3 linked regions of the Homo sapiens genome follow. The protein of the gene in region 3 purifies or fractionates together with the protein of the main gene of each other region. This does not show direct contact. Each region holds a gene or a part of one and is shown on either strand. Other genes may lie near its edges.

Region 1 (3,744 bases), on a different chromosome or scaffold from region 3:
CCCTCAAGGCAACCAGCATTTGTCCTGCACATCCTCAGTGGCAGGGCCACAAACACAACAGACAATAGCCCACTGTGTTGTAGGTGGGGGGTTGGTGGGGAGTGGAAGCAGAGTACGATCATGCCCCAGGACCAAAGGCCTGGAAGTGAGATGAAAGTGTTCTCTGGAGTCAGACAGCCCAGGTACAAATCCCTGCTCCCCACCCATTCATTCAACCTGTGACCTTGAGCCGTTCACCTACTCTCACTAAGCCTCACTCTCCTCCTCTAGAAAATGGGATGGATAATAGAATCTACCCCATGGTTGTACAGAGTAAATGCGATCATGCGTGCCCAACGCCTGCTTAATAACTGTTATTATCATGATGATGGTGATTAATCTTCATGGGTTGTGGACCATTATGTGATCGGATTGAAAAGGTTCTGGCTCAAAGCCAGAAGATCTGGGCGTGCATCCCGCCTCTGACCCACATTAGCTCTGGGACCAGGGTGTGGTCATCTCTCCACTCAGACACTCTGTTTATCCGTCCCTAAATAGAGGGGACCGTCCCCACCATGACAGAGCTGATGGGATTCAGGGAAGTAACCCATGTATGTATTCTGTACGAAAGACAGCCTGAGCAAACCTGGGAGCCTCCCATTGCTACATTAATTAATTGGAAGGAGGTTGCCAGCCAGAAACCAATTACAAAGTCCCTCCAGGGGCCTCTGCGGGGGCAAAAAGGAGGGATGAGGAAGGGCGGTGGTGGCTTCTCCCCCACTCCCCACCCCCACCCCACTTGTGCCTCCTTAGCAGCTGGTCCCGCACTCCAGGCCCACAAAGGAGAGGCTCATTCTAAACAGCTACTTTTCATGTGGAAGCCACTGGATTTGCATCTGTCCTTCCCTGGCAAGGCCTGCCCCATGCCAGCTGCCCCAAGCTCCCCAGGCTGCAGGGTGCTCCAGGACCCTGGGCCTGAGCCTGCAGGGCCTACAGGGGAAGGAATGGGAACCCAATGGGGCTGATCAGGAAAAGAGGGAAGGAGACAGGGCTGGGCGCAGAGAGAATCTGCACACGTTCTCATCTCCTGGACACCAGATAAGCTCTGTGGCCAGGCATATCCAAATCAGAGTCAGGGCTGCCCGGGTGCCAGGAGCCGAGACTCCACCAGCCCTGGCCCTGGCGGAGGCTGTGTCTGCTTCAGCTAGCTGGCCTGGGAGAGAAGTGGAAAAACTCACTCCATCCCTGAGCTGCCAGGACATTGGCCCAGCCAGCGCCCACACTCCCAACCAGCCAAACTCAAGTGTGTGCCAACCTCACAGGGCTGGCCACTGTGGGGTGATTCTGGGAGCCCTGGAGAGCCTCAAACCCTTCCCAGCTTCCTCTAAGAACTGCCATAGGTGTCAAGGTGGCAGTGCCTCGGGGGAGGGGAACACAGGGCCTCTGGGCACAGTCCAGAAGAAAGCACCTGACAGCGCTTTTCTGGAGAGTGAGCTTCATTGCCTAGAGGGAGAGACAGTAAGGAAGGAAAGAGCCTGCATTCATTAGGCACTTACAGTATGCAGGCAAGGCAAGAGGTCTCCTGGCTCATGCCCACTGGACCTCGAGACTCTGAACTCAAGGCTTTGGCCTTTCCATGTCCTTCTCCTCTAAGGTCCTGGATCCCAGGGACTGTGGCTAATGCCACTGTTTTCCTAATGCCTCACACAGGGCCTGGCCCAGAGTAGGTGCTCAGAGGGTGCTGGCTAAATGAACGAATGACTGCTAGCCGCACACCTCCCAGCATGAGAATGCTGGATATCTGGAAGAAGGCCGGGAAGGGAGAGGAGGCATAATGGGTGTGTGGGCAGAGCAGGCAGAGCCCTTGCCCACCCGCAAGTGGGCTCCCACCCGGGAGCTGGGTCTGTGCTGGTACCCCCGCTTCCTCTTCACCAAGGCTTCCTGAGGTGCTGGCTCTCTTACTTCCTCTCCCAGGGAGACCCAGACAGGAACGAGGTGCTGGGATGTAGAATGTCTGGAGGTTCAGGTATCTCCTGGGTACCTAGATTCTGCGTCAGGGAACTGGAGGCAGAGGGGCCTCATAATCCCCCTCGCCATCTGACTGTAGGTATAGCAAGGCTCCTATGGACTTTGCTCCCCTGCCCCACATCCTGTCCCTCCTCCCACTCCCGCAATGCTTCTTCCATCTAGGGCAGATGGTGTCCCACAGAGGGAAATCCAGGCACCAGCAGGACAGGAAGGGGCGATGCAGTGGGGTAAGTGGAGTGGGGCCAAAACATTTGTGCCTGCTCAGAATGCCCCAGGACCCCTTGCCAGGGCAGCCGGGTGGAAAGAGCACTGACCATGAGTCAGGACCGAGGTGCCAGCCCCTCCAGCCTCAAACTTACTGAATGACTTTGGGCAAGTTACAACTTCTGCTCCCAGCGTCTCAGTTCCCTCATTTCTCAAGGGAAAGGGTTGGGTGATTTGCCCGCTCCAAAATTTTATTCTCCTATGGGTGACTCTGTAGGGGCCCTAGAGACACATGATCTTTGGAAAATGCAGGCCTGCTATTACCTGGGCAGGATAACATCATCCTCAGTCCTTTCACATTCAGCAGGAGCCACTGGCTCTTATCAGCAGGCTGTGCCCTGCTGGAGCTGAGGCAGGAGAGGGAAGGCTGCCTGCAGAAAGAGGGGCCAGGGCACAGTTGATCGTGCTGCCCACGGACCTACAATCTATCTGCTTAGCAGGGAGGAGCATGTTGGCATGAAAGGTCTTCTCTTTTCCCACACTCCCTCTCCTAAGGCCTTCTAAGGTGCAGCAGGCAATTGTGCTGCTCAGGGTACTTTGCTCCTGGACCGCTGACCCCCCTGAGCCAGGCTCAGGAAGGTAAAAAGCATTCAGCTCACTAGCGTCTAACTTAACACAGCACACCTCAAAATAGGGGAGCCTGGTCACTATAAGCCACCTCCTCCCTTACCTGGAAGACCCACCTCTGGGTCACATCACAGCCAGCAGCCAGGAAATCACCCTAAAGGGCCTCTGAGCAGTACAAAGCGGGTTGCAAGGGCCTAGACTTTAGCTCACAGGTTTTCTTATAGCCCATTAACTTGTACTTTACACACGACTCTATTAATGTACCTTGTCCTCTGCTTTTCCAGTTGATAGCAATGTAGAAACAGATATTTAGAACTGGAGAAGCACTGCTAGTCTGGTACATGACTGAGATGGAACAGAACAAGAAAATTATACAAAGCAGTCAGAAGAACCTGAAGAATAAAATCAGCTGGAGCTACTCGTCTCAGGGAAAGCAGCCTTGGCTCCCTCGCCCCGAGCTGCCCTAGGAAGCACGTTGGACTGAGAGGAGGCAGCACCTTGACCTCCTGTGCATGCTCAGGGCCCTGCATCAGAGCCTTCCTTCCCTCCACTCTTTCTTCCCTTTTTCTGGCTTTCTTCTCTTTCTCATCCTATAAAGAAAGTAAGGTAACTTACTAAATTACATACAATCAAATAAAGTTTAAAACATAGCCAGGAGAAATGCCACAGGGCTAGAAGTTCTCCGGGGCTCTGTGTTCCTAAGGCTAGTTAGGGCAGGAGTCCTTCAGAAACCACAGGGTTTGCCGGCAGCTTTAGCAGCTGTGCCTCATGGTTAAGGGGGCAAGGGGATGTATGAAAGAGAGGCGGAAAATGGAAAACAGGCTCACCTCCTCTACAGAAGTGCTACTGAGGATCTAGCAACTTGCCATCTGCTTTCCTCTTCTCCACTTGCCAGGCCTCTCTGAG
Region 2 (3,744 bases), on a different chromosome or scaffold from region 3:
GACACACAGCCAGCCTGGGAGCAGTACAGCAGGGACGGCCTGTGGCGGGACCCCAGCATGGGGCAAGCACACTCAGACCAGCAGACAGGGCAGGGAAGAGCTTCAGGAGAGGCGGAAGCAGCACACTGAGAAGCGGAACGGGGACACCTGGGTGCAAGCTCCGGGAGGCTCCCTCAGGCCCGGGGCAAGAGCCCAGCACGCATGCATTCCGGCCTTCCAGGCCAGACCTAATTCACCCCAGCCGAGCTGCTCCCCGTGGCCAGCGCTGTGCCTCAGCCCATGCCAGAGCTGCCCCACAGGCCCTAGCACTCCCCACTGTTCAGCCACAAGCGACTTCACCACCATCCCTGGCCCTTCTTGGGGTCCTGCCACCTGGGAAGTGGTGGGCGGATGCACGCTGGATGAAGGGTCTCGCCTTCTCCAAGGGTTGCTTGGGCAAGGCCTCCCTTCTGAGAGAGTCCCAGAGAGGCTCAGGGCCGCAACCTGAGGAGTGGGGCCGGACGGGGGGTGGGGCCTAGGACTACCTGGTCGATGGTTGAAGGGCGAGGGTACATCACAGCTGCCCGCAGAGGCCGATGCGACTCTTTCCTGCTGCTTGAAGAACTCCCTTGGGTTGTCAGGCCGCTGGGCAATAATAGCTGCTGCCTCCTGAGGGCACGAGGAAAAGGTTGGGGCTGGGCCAGGCAAGCTGAGATAGCCCTGTCTGCCTCACCTGGCTGGTGCCCCCAGCTCTCACCTCCACCTCCGACTCTGACTTCTTCATGTGGGTCTCTTCCTCCTCATCCCGATGGTCACCCTAGAAACCAAAGGGACAGTGTCTGGTGCACCTACCCCCCACAGGGGCTTTTGGCCTTCTTTTTTACTGTATTTTATTTATTGATTTTGTTTTTAAGACAGGTTCTCGCCCTACCACCCAGGCTGGGGAGCAGTGGTACAATCACGGCTCACTGCAGCCTCTGCCTCCTGGGCTCAAGCAATCCTCCCACCTCAGCCTCCCGAGTAGCTGGGACTACAGGTGTGCACCACCATGCCCGGCTAATTTTAATTTTTTGGTAGAGATGGGGTCTCCCTATGTTGCCCAGGCTGGTCTCAAACTTCTGGGCTGAAGGGATCCTCCTGCCTTGGCCTCCCAAAGTGTTGGGATGGATTACAGTCATGAGCCACCAGTGCCCGGCCTTCTGGCCTTCTTTTTTTTTTTTTTTTTTTTTTGAGACGGAGTCTCGCTCTGTCGCCCAGGCTGGAGTGCAGTGGCGGGATCTCGGCTCACTGCAAGCTCCGCCTCCCGGGTTCACGCCATTCTCCTGCCTCAGCCTCCCAAGTAGCTGGGACTACAGGCGCCCGCCACTACGCCCGGCTAATTTTTTGTATTTTTAGTAGAGACAGGGTTTCACCGTTTTAGCCGGGATGGTCTCGATCTCCTGACCTCGTGATCCGCCCGCCTCGGCCTCCCAAAGTGCTGGGATTACAGGCGTGAGCCACCGCGCCCGGCCCCTTCTGGCCTTCTTACAGCCCCCATGCTTCTTTCGCAATCTGGCAGGAAGGGTTTCAGAGGTGGTACCTCTGCCCCGTCAAACCCTGTCACACAGCCCCTCTCTTCCCTCAGGGCCCTCAGCCACCTCATCTCTGACCTGCCAGGCCTCTGGGCACCAGGCTCACTCACTCACTTGCTCATCCCCATATCTAAGCAGGTGCCTAGGGCCCTCCAGAAGTGCTCCTTGTTTTGCAGATAACTTCTTGGACCTCCTACCCTAGTGCCGGGGCCACCATGCTCCCAATGTTGCTGCCTGGACCGTGGCATCATGGTCCAGCCTTCCTCACTGCTACCTGCCTTATTTGCTCTCCATAGGCCCTGAAAGGACCTTTCCAAAATGCGGATCAGACCATGATTTTCCTGAGCTTAAAATCCCTCAGGGGTTCCCATGAGCCACAGCAAGCACTGGCTAAATATGACCCACAGATGGCTTTTGTTTTGCTGGTATGATATTTTTAAACCATGTTCATTAGTTACCACCACTTAAAAACCAGGAACTTTCATACTGAGATGAGGGTCCCAGTTTCTCTTGAGGTGACAGAGCCCTGGCGACATCACCTGCAAGCCCGGAGCAGCCATCACCGGGGCCTCGCCGCAGCCCCCTTAAGACAGGCGTGTGCCACCCGCTCACCCCCGGCCCCACCATCGCCTACTGGCTTCACCTGCCCACTGCACACGTTGTTTTGGGTGGGCAGCGCCCGCACTTGGCCTACGTCCCCCACCCCTGCCTGACCTAGCCGTCACCTCTCCAACACCACCCCCTGCCGGCCCCCACCCCAAGGCTCCCACATACTGTGAGATGTAGACATCAAGTCCTCAGCACGACGCAGTCAGTTCCCAGAACAGGCACACCCGTTCCCACCTCCAAGCCTCAGCATGGGAGACTGGCCTCCCTCCCAAATGCCTGCTCCCCACCCGGGGGCCAGGCCCTCTGGTTTCCAGCTGCAGCGTGGCCACTGCTTCCTGGGGAAGGACCTCTGAACAAGAGGCTTGTTCAGGTCATTTCCTCCTCTGGGTCCCCACAGGGTGCTCCTGGCTTCCACCACGATGACACCACATCCTAAGTTCCTGTTTCCGGAGGCACCTCCCCCCTCCGCTGTGAGCAACGCAGGATGAGGACCGGGGTCTCCGGGTGGGTGGCCAGCACAAGGCGGGCGCATGTTTGCTCAACTGCACTCACACACCAAAGGCTTCTTAGTCGGTGTCCCCTGCTGCTCAGGTGGCAGCTTGGGCAGGAGGGGCTGCTAAGGTGGTGAAGTCCCAGGGCTGCTCTGTTTTTGAGCCTATAATCTAAAATTTTAGCTTATGTCAGGAGCACTGGGAGAAGGGCCCTTCGTAGTATCCCACCTCAGGAGGGCTATCACCTCAGTGATAACTTTGTGACCCCCAGAATGAAGTCTAAACTCCTCCTCTGCCCTTGCTCTCCTTTCCCAATCAAATCTCCCCCACTCCTCAGCCCACGGGGTTCCAGTCAGCCTAGGCTCTTCACCTTCCCATGAGCCTGTGTCCCACCAGCCTTTGCTGCTCTGCCCACTGCCTGCTGTAATCTCAGTTGGTTCCTCTGCCTTGTTCAAAGAAAGGACCAGAGGCAACTACCACAAAGGCTTTTTTTTTTTTAATCTGAGACAGAGTCTTTCACTCAGGCTGGAGTGCAGTGGCGAGATCTCGGCTCACTGCAAGCTCCGCCTCCCGGGTTCACGCCATTCTCCTGCCTCAGCCTCCCGAGTAGCTGGGACTACAGGCGCCCGCCACCACGCTCGGCTAATTTCTTGTATTTTTTAGTAGAGACGGGGTTTCACCATGTTAGCCAGGATGGTCTCGATCTCCTGACCTCATGATCCGCCTGCCTTGGCCTCCCAAAGTGCTGGGATTACAGGCATGAGCCACTGAGCCCAGCCCTCCACAAAGGCTTTAATAAACTACCAACCATGTGAACACTGAAACAAGTAAGGCCCAGAGGGAGGAGAGAGATCAACGCACTAACCACATGGGTCAAAGCCACTGCTGTGCCTAAAGCATTTTCAGATACACGGGAGCTCCCCTGCAGGCCAGGCAAAAAGGGAACTCAGATATGGAACACAATTCGTAACAGGGGAGAGAAAGCAACAGCTCCTTAAGCCAAGAGAAAGCATTTCACAGTGCTAAATCCCAAAGTCTCTCGCATATTCCCTTCCTTAGAGGACCTGAAATTGAAAGGGTACCACACTGACCTG
Region 3 (3,744 bases):
TTCCCGGGGACACTCTAGTCCTGCCCCCGGTCCCTAACAGCCCACTCTGGCCCTGCCTAGGTACCCACCAGTCATTCTCCTGCTCGAAATAACAGATGGAGATCACACGAGAGCCGCTGCCCACAGCAAACTTGTTCTCGTTGGGGGCCCAGCGCACGCAGCGGGCAGCCCGGTTGATCCGCAGGATGACCAGCGTGGGCTTCCATGTGCGGCCCTTCAGCGTCCACACGTAGGCGTTGCGGTCTGTGCCGCAGGTCACAATACGGTTACTCTCGGGGGCCCAGTCGATGCCTGTGGGGGGATGGAGGGAACACAGGAGGCTGATGACACTCAGGCAGAGGTGGCTGTATGGTGGCCACATGGGAGAGGCTGAAAGGCCACCATCCAGGTGGAAGCTGTATCTGCCCAGCAGGCACTTTTTTTTTTTTTTGAAACAGAGTCTCGCTCTGTCACCCAGGCTGGAGTGCAGTGGCATGATCTCAGCTCACTGCAGCCTCTGCCTCCCAGGTTCAAGCAATCCTCGTGCCTCAGCCTCCTGAGTAGCCGGGACTACAGGTGTGTACCACCAATCTTTTTTTTTTTTTTTTTTTTTTGAGACAGAGTCTCGCTCAGCCGCCCAAGCTGGAGTGCACTGGCACGATCTCAGCTCACTGGAACCACCATCTTCCGGGTTCAAGCAATTCTCACATATCAGCCTCCCAAGTAGCTGGGATTACAGGCACCCGCCATCATGCCTGGCTAATTTTTGTATTTTAGTAGAGATGAGGTTTCACCATGTTGACCAGGCTGGTCTTGAACTCCTGACCTCAGGTGATCCGCCCGCCTCCGCCTCCCAAAGTGCTGGGAGTACAGGCGCAAGCCACCGCACCCGGCCTCTTTCTTTCTTTGTTTTTATTGCGACACAGTCTCGCTCTGCCATCCAGGCTGGAGTGCAGTGGTGCAATCTCAGCTCACTTCAACCTCCGCCTCCTGGGTTCAAGCGATTCTTCTGCCTCAGCCTCCAGAGTATCTGGGACTACAGGTGCGTGCCACCACACCCGGCTAATTTCTGTATTTTTCAACATTTAGTCATGTTGGCCAGGATGGTCTCGAACTCCTGACCTCAAGCGATCCACTCGCCTTGGCCTCCTGAAGTGCTGGGATTACAGGCATGAGCCACTGCACCCGGCCCAGCAAGCACTTTTTACTGAGATCCAGTGCTTATTTAGAGTGACACCAGGGGGCACTCCTAGAGCTTATGAGGGAGTGTCAGAGCCCTCCATGCTATCAGCAAACATGCTGGAGGGCAAAGCCAAGAGGCAGAAAAGATGGGTTCTTGGTCATGTGGAGCTGCTGGATCAAGCCTCTCCTGAAGCCCTCAACCCTGTGAGTTTTTGGTAACATGAGCCAACACAGTCCCCTTAAAATTGAAGCCAGTTTGAATCCGGGTTTCACGGTGAGTGGGCAGATGCTCCACAATGAGTGGCCATGCCCTGCCTTGCACCACCCCCCCAACCCACCACCTCCTTTCAGGACGGTGGTCCCAGCCACCCTGACATACCTGTCACCTGCCCGTTGTGCTCCTTGAGCTCGTGCACCTTGGTCCATTTGGCACCGCTCTTTTCATAGATATGCACCTCATGGTTGTTGGGGCAGATGGCAATCTCTGAAGGGGAGATGGAGGGAGATTGAGGGGCCCTCTCCATGACTGCCCTCTGCCAGGACACACTACACAGTGCACCTAGGCAACAACACCTCACCTTTCATGACTCAGTCTCTCCTCTTCTGCCTTGCAGGGGCCCCCTGAAGTCCTTCAGGCCCTGCTAGGCCACCCTGTCTTCTCCTGGAACTGGCTGTCCTTTACTCGCAGCAATGAACCCTGGGACCTCTCCCCACCCTATTGCTCTGGCCAACCAGGAACCCTTCGCTGCTCCTGCTGACACCTCAGGGCCCCTGCACCTGCCAGCCCCTCCCCAGCTGGGGCACAGTTCCCTTCCTCTCCCCCTCTGGGTCTCTGGGTAAATGTCAAAATGTCATCTCCTCCGAAAGGCTTTTTCTTGGTCACTTTTTCTTTCTTTCTTTCTCTCTTTTTTTTTTTTTGAGACAGAGTCTCGCTTTGTTGCCCAGGCTGGAGTGCAGTGGTGCAATCTCGACTCACTGCAACCTCCGCCTCCTGGGTTCAAGCAATTCTCGTGCCTCAGCCCCCCGAGTAGCTGGGATTACAGACACCCACCACCACGCCCAGGTAATTTTTGTATTTTTAGTAGAGACAGGGTTTCACCATGTTGCCCAAGCTGGTCTGGAACTCCTGACCTCAAGTGATCCACCCACCTCAGCCTCCCAAAGTGCCGGGATTACAGGCATGAGCTACCGCAACTGGCCCATTCCCTCCTTAAACTTTAACCCAGGAGGCCCCTGGTCAGCTGGAAGACCCAGGGGTGAGGCCAGGGGACAGCCACATGGAGCCCATGGTCCGGGGGCCTGGCTGCTCCAGAGTCCCCATGTGTGCTCTGGCTGGTCCCCATCCCAGGAGGTGGAAGCAGCCACCCACCGGCCCCCAGCAAGCACTCACGGGTGCGGTCCTTGTTCCAGGCGTGGCAGCTGATGGGCTCCACCAGGAAGCTGTGGTAGGCCATGGCGGCTTGGCTCCTGTGCCCGAGAGAGGAAGAGAGAATCCACGTCAGCCCCAACCTTGCCCCTGACTTCACCCATACCAGGCCCCAGATGATCCTCACAGGCCTCACACCAGGGAGGCCCCTCAGTTTAGAGGGGCAGCAGTTTGCAGAGAGGAGCAGCAGGGGCCAGCCCTGGCTCCCAACTGGCCTGACATGTTGCTTCCCCTCCTGGGGCCTCAGTTTCCCTCCTTATAAAAGGGCAGCTTTCACAGGATGTCTCTGAGGCTCCAGGGACAGGGTGGAGGAGACGGTACTACAGGGGAGATGCTCCCTGGGGCGGGGTGGGGTGCTAGGACTCCAAGCTGGACAGGCCCCTCACTTGTCATCTGTGCCTCGGTTTCCTCATAGGATGGACGACCCCCCCCCCCCCACCCAACTTCCCCTGCCCCATTAAGGATGGGATGAAGATGAAGTCATCCAGGCCAGGCCCGGTGGCTCATGCCTGTAATCCCAACACTTTGGGAGATCGAGGCAGGCGGATCACTTGCGGCCAGGAGTTCAAGACCAGCCTGGCCAACATGGTGAAACTCCGTCTTTACTAAAACTACAAAAAATTAGTCGGGTGTGGTGGCGGGCACCTGTAGTCCCAGCCTGAGGCAGGAGAATGGCGTGAACTTGGGAGGCGGGGCTTGCAGTAAGCCGAGATCGCACCACTGCACTCCAGCCTGGGCGACAGAGTGAGACTCCGTCTCAAAAAAAAAAAAAAAAAAAAAAAAAAAAATTAGCCAGGTGTGGTGGCACCTGCCTGTAATCCCCACTACTCAGGAGGCTGGGTGACAGAGCAAGACTCATCTCAGAAAAAAAAAAAAAAAAAAGAAATGAAGTAATCTCATAAACCACCTAGAAAGGTGTCCAGCACATGGCAGTTGGCCCTGCCGTGCCCAGAGCCCTGGTCTTCCCCCACACTGCTCAGACGGGGAGAAGGGAGGTGGCCGGTCTGCAGGGGCTCATGGCTGAGGCAAAGGCAGATATTTAACAGATACATCCCATTCTCCATCCAGACATCCACTGGCTGCACCCAGGGCTGGGAGGAGGCACAGGGCTAGGCGAGGCCTGGGTGATGGCTCTTGGGGAGGCCCCAGGGTGACCC

The links.
Region 1: the proteins of ARPC1B (region 3) and CORO2B purify together in Homo sapiens (affinity purification with mass spectrometry; 2 studies listed by BioGRID and IntAct, with this or other methods). This does not show direct contact.
Region 2: the proteins of ARPC1B (region 3) and DBN1 purify together in Homo sapiens (affinity purification with mass spectrometry; 2 studies listed by BioGRID and IntAct, with this or other methods). This does not show direct contact.

What each region holds. Positions count from the first base shown.
Region 1 is NC_000015.10:68,581,993-68,585,736, reverse strand, and holds part of CORO2B (coronin-2B), read right to left. Parts: intron 1-3,744. UniProt on the Homo sapiens protein: May play a role in the reorganization of neuronal actin structure.
Region 2 is NC_000005.10:177,459,908-177,463,651, forward strand, and holds part of DBN1 (drebrin), read right to left. Parts: intron 2,520-3,744; exon of another isoform or gene 2,325-2,519; intron 797-2,324; coding exon 737-796; intron 649-736; coding exon 525-648; intron 1-524. UniProt on the Homo sapiens protein: Actin cytoskeleton-organizing protein that plays a role in the formation of cell projections. Required for actin polymerization at immunological synapses (IS) and for the recruitment of the chemokine receptor CXCR4 to IS.
Region 3 is NC_000007.14:99,384,586-99,388,329, reverse strand, and holds part of ARPC1B (actin-related protein 2/3 complex subunit 1B), read right to left. Parts: intron 2,629-3,744; 5' UTR 2,616-2,628; coding exon 2,552-2,615; intron 1,646-2,551; coding exon 1,541-1,645; intron 292-1,540; coding exon 69-291; intron 1-68. UniProt on the Homo sapiens protein: Component of the Arp2/3 complex, a multiprotein complex that mediates actin polymerization upon stimulation by nucleation-promoting factor (NPF).